2 separate regions of the Homo sapiens genome follow, and region 1 is linked to region 2. The links come from fine-mapping of genetic effects on gene expression. A gene starts in region 2. The other region holds a variant in brackets. All regions are shown on one strand. Distances are between the middles of the regions.

Evidence for each region.
Region 1: its variant is fine-mapped to the expression of FAT4 in blood mononuclear cells (TOPMed, PIP above 0.99).

The regions. Positions count from the first base shown.
Region 1 is chr4:125,386,154-125,388,653 of GRCh38, forward strand. All of the region lies in intron 2 of FAT4 (FAT atypical cadherin 4), which reads left to right. Among named protein-coding and RNA genes, the nearest start is that of FAT4, 72 kb to the left of the region's middle. The variant G/A (reference allele first, on the strand shown) is at 1,527.
Region 2 is chr4:125,314,009-125,316,508 of GRCh38, forward strand. It overlaps FAT4 (FAT atypical cadherin 4), which reads left to right and starts at 947. Exons shown (of 18, transcript NM_001291303.3): 1 at 947-1,969; 2 at 2,392-2,500. The coding sequence starts at 2,404.

The sequences.
Region 1 (2,500 bases), 72 kb after region 2:
TTTTACATCATTGAATAAATGTACATTAAATGCCTTCTGTACCCTAGGCGTTATATTGAAACTGATCTAAATGTTTCACTGTTTGAAACTTAGAAAAGAAGCAGGCTTTCTGAGTTTTGTTTTGTTTTGTTTTGATTTTTTTGAGGCGGATTCTCACTCTGTTGCCCAGGCTTGAGTGCAGTGGCACCATCTCGGCTTACTGCAACCTCCACCTCTGGGGTTCAAGTGATTCTCCTGCCTCAGCCTCCTGAGTAGCTGGGATTACAGGTGCACACCTGGCTAATTTTTGTATTTTTAGTAGAGACAGGGTTTCATCATGTTGGCCTGGCTGGTCTCAAACTCCTGACCTCAAGTAATCCACCTACCTTGGCCTCCCAAAGTGCTGGGATTATAGGTGTGAGCCACTGCACCTGGCCCTGAGTTTAGAAAAATAGGATGTCTAAATAGAATTAAAGAACAATGCATTTCCAAAAAATTGATTTTGATAAGTTGAATTTCTTTAGAACATATACTTTACAATTTATATCACATAAAATTTTATTCATTACTGTTTATTAGTGAGCTAAAGCTGTTTCATATAAATTAAATTTGTTATTGTTTTGAAGTAAAAATACAACACAAGACTCTAGAAAGAGACTTTAATTTTATAGTTTAAGATAGCTGTTTAAAAGATATAAGGACATATAACTATTATAGACCAGTGGTCCCCAAACTTTTTGGTACCAGGGACCAGTTTGGTGAAAGACATTTTTCCACATACTGGGTGGGAGGGTGGTTTTGGGATGAAAGTGTTCCACCTCAGGCCATCAGGCATTAGATTCTCATAAAGAGCGTGCAACCTAGATCCTTCGCATGCACCATTCACAATAGGGTCCACCCTTCTTTGAGAATCTAATGCCGCAGCTGATCTGACAGGAGGCAGAGCTCAGGCAGTAACGCTCACTTGCCCGCCCCTCACCTGCTGCTATGGGCCGGGTTCCTAACAGGCCACAAACCAGTACCGGTCTGTGCCCAGGGGTTGGAGACCCCTGTTATAGACTAATAACCAACTGAAATAGAATAGCATAGCTATGAGTCAAAGGTTTGTGTCTTTTGCATCAAAGAATAGAAATGTCTGCAAAGGTGAAGACTACTATGCAAATGTGAAATGAGGAAGAGTGATTATTTTGACATTGCAGTCATTCCATAAAAGAACTATAGCCAAGTCTCGTGTAGGTTCTAGAAAACCACTAAAGATGGCGACCATGTTATCATGGGGGCTGCATTGTTTCTTATTGTACTTGTGCCATTATTTTGTTCTTGCAATGTTCTTTGTGTTTTTGTTTTGTTTTTGTTTGTTTAAATTTTCTATTCTTAAAAAAACACAATCTGATGAACTCTCCCCAATCTATGATTCGTTCCTCTTGGATCATGTATTCCCACCACTCCTCTAATCTTTGGATTGTTGGAGGGGGAGGAAGAACTTGATATGTATTATTTTGAGTTGCCCCTGACAGATAGCAGTATGGCATGGTAAGTGAGAATGT[G/A]TAGCTATATAGGGTAGGAAAAGGTATTAATAGATTCAGAGAAATAAAACTCCCAGTACAAGCCATACAACAGATCAATATACATTAGCTTTTTACTCTTCTTTGTGCTGCTCATGTTAGACCAGTAATTATTTAGAACATGGAAACAAAGTAAAATAACCAGTTAATGAATTCATTGTTTTGGCTTTTGTATCTGTTAGCTACTGCCAGAATAATGTTGCATAATAAAGAGCCACAAAAATCTCAAAGGCCTACAAAAATTCACTTTTATCCTCACACATTTCTGGATAACTGCAGTTGGGCTTCTCTAGGCTAGACTCAACTAGGAAGCTTGGCTTCAGTCTAAAAACCTTCCAGCTGAGATTCCTCTACTCAGTATCTCTAGTCTTTCTGGTAGTAGTGGGCTAGCAGAAACATACTGTTCTAGTGACCATGGCAGAGGTAGAAAAGAATAAGTGTATTTTAAGCCCCTTCTTGTGCTATTTTTATAGATAGCCCATTGTCCAATCCAAATATTATGAAAGAGCCCAAAAAAGGCAAGGAGAAAAATCTCACCTTTAGTGGGAGGGACTGCAAAGTTGTTTATGGGGAGGGGTAACGGGACCAATAATTCAGTCTACCGTAGTTTGTACCTTTAATAGAAATCAAACCACTTCTTTATTTTTCAGTAGTTTGAATAGAAGCCTTCTTTATTTCATAGTATCCAGTACACATTAGGCAAAAAAAGAGAAGAAAAAATTTAGTGGCATTTTTTGTTTGTTTGTTTTATACTAAAATTTCCCTTTGATATGTGTCTACCACATTCAGATTAACATCTATTGAAAAATATACTACAGGACGCATTTGTAGGGTGTTTGTTTTGAAGAATAGTATAAAAATTTCCATAAGTTTCTTATGCAACCACACATATTTTAACTTGATGTTTTATTCTGCATTTACTTTTGAGCATCCTTAAGAATTTGTTAAAATGCAGA
Region 2 (2,500 bases):
AATGTGGAGGTGGAAATACTCCATCAGGGATCAAAATTCCAAACTAACTTTGCAACAGGAAAAGATCTCCCTCTTTTCAAAGGGCTGCCATTATTATTGTTGTTGAAACCCTAAGGTTTGGGCTACTGGCACCTGGAATCCAGTTGGGAAAGAAAACAAAACAAACACTGAGTTCCCCTGGCCTTTCCTATAGTAGGAAGTCCAAAGTGCCCTTGCTACGGAGGCCTCCTGCCCCCTAGTCACCTGGAAGGTGGGGGAGAGGGGCAAGTGAGTGAAGATTTAGAGTTTAGCTCGCCCTAGACAGCAGGGAGCCCACTGTGTAGAAAGAGGAGCAAAGGGGAGGATTTGATTTGGATTCTGTGGGATCACACTGTATGGCAGCTCTATCCCTTGCATAAAGAGAGAAGGGGCAGGAAATGGTTAAAGCAAATCTGCACTGTGCATTCCCAGACAGGCTTTGCTTAATCCTTCCTCCCCGCTTTAACAGACCCTCACCCCCCGCCTTTCTTTTATTTCTCTCGACCCCCTTACCCCTGAGTTATTACTAGCATAACAACCTAACGGTCTTCCCCCAGACCCTGCCACTAAAGTTATTTATCTGCAAACCTGACCCCACCCCCATCTATTCTGCGGCAGCCTTTTGCTGTTATTGCTCTGACGCCGGCCAAGATTTGGCCGAAAAGGAAAAAAAAAAAAAAAAAAGAAAAGAAAAAAAATCACCCCCCTTTTTAGCGCCTCCGCCTCGCTGTGCTCCCACACCAGACCGCCTACAGCCCTCCGGGAGGCTGAAGTGATTAGCATCCCGAGAAGCCAGTCGGAGGCCGGGCAAGGCGGAGGGCGCTCGCGGTAGGAGTGCCGGTCGGGGCTGCTTCAGCTCCGGCCCAATGGGGCTGGGGCGAGGGAGGGGCAGAAGGTGACAGGACTGGGAGCTAGGGGGAGTCCAGGCGAACTAAAGTGCGGGGATCAATGAGTGTCGAGCAAAGTTTCTGAGTGCTGCTCCAGCTCGCGGTCTTCCCTCCCCCTCTGTTTGTGTTTCGGCGACGCGCTGTGTGTGTGTGTGTGCGTGTGTATGTGTGTGTGTGTGCATGCCTGTGCGGCGGGGAAGGGGCGGGGAGAGTGTGAGGGACCAGGCGGGAGGTGGAGAAGGGCTCGCGGAGCCCTAGCTCCACCGCAGTCCAACCTTCGGCCCCGGCCGGCGAGAGGGAGAGCGCTGACAGGCGCCGTCCGGAGCTGCGGAGGGCGTCACTACAGCCCAGCGCCGACTTCGCCGCCTCCGCTGCCAACTGTGAAGGAGAGAGAGGCATCAACCACCCCCCGCCCCAAACAAAAAGCCTTGTGGATTACAAAGTGAAACTGACACGGGACAATAAAAGCAGAGATAGCGAGGGCAGGGGCGAGGCGCGCTAGAGTGGGCTTCTGACTGGGGCCGCCGGAGAACGACCCCCCCTGGCATGGTGAGGGGAGGGCGACTCGGGGACCGCACGCTGTTTCTGCCCGACCCCTGCGAGGCCGAGAAGAAAGGGGAAACTGCGTTCGATTTGGATGTACAAATAATGGGTCGGCAGGCGCCCCGGCAGAGGTGAAAAATGCCGAGGAGCCCTGGCTGTTGTTTGTGCCGGACCACGGGCTTGAAGCCGCAACAGGGGCGGCGGCGGCGGCGGCTGCAGGAGGGGAAGGGGCAGAGTTGAGCGCTCCCGGGTACGGGAGCCAGAGCGCGAACGCTAGCGCTTGGAACGCAGTTCCCGAACTGCCTGCGCGCAGACGCCGCCGCCTGGGCCTCAGCGGCCACTGCCGGCGCCCTGTTGGAGGGGCGTTGCAGCCTGGTTTTTGAGGAGTGGGGACTCCAGGAATTCCATCGCCTCCAGCTTTTGGGAAAGAAATTCGATTCTCCCGGTTCCCCACCACCCCTTCCCCGGTGCGCAGTTGTGCTTGGACGTTTGTTCCTCCCTCTTCACGTTCTTCGCTGCGGGTAAGTTCTAAAGTTTCTGAAGACCGTTCTTTGCAATGATTCCTCATATACCTTAGATACAGGCAACTTCTCCCAACTCTCATCCACCCGGGTGAAAACGCTCAGACTATCTGGATTCAAAAACAAAGTAAAAGGGGGCATATATAAGAGGCTTGAGAAACTTTTCTGGGAACTCAGCTCACAGGAGTGTCCCGCGGAATGCCCTGCCGCTTTTCGCCACAGCATCTCTCTTGCACTCCGCGTTCAACTGGCTACCTAGAGTCTTTTGCTGATGCTACTTGCTTTTGCCGGACTGGAGGTTCTTTGAAATAGCAGAGGTCTCAGACCAAGCCGTCAGCTGAATCTTTGCTGGCGCTCCTTAATCCCTGTAAATATCATTGCGTTTGCTTCACCCCTTCCTTCTCTTTATCACATCGTTTTAGGGAGCCAGGACCATGGACTTAGCACCAGACAGGGCTACTGGCCGCCCGTGGCTCCCGTTGCACACTCTATCAGTATCTCAGCTCCTTCGAGTGTTTTGGCTACTGTCAT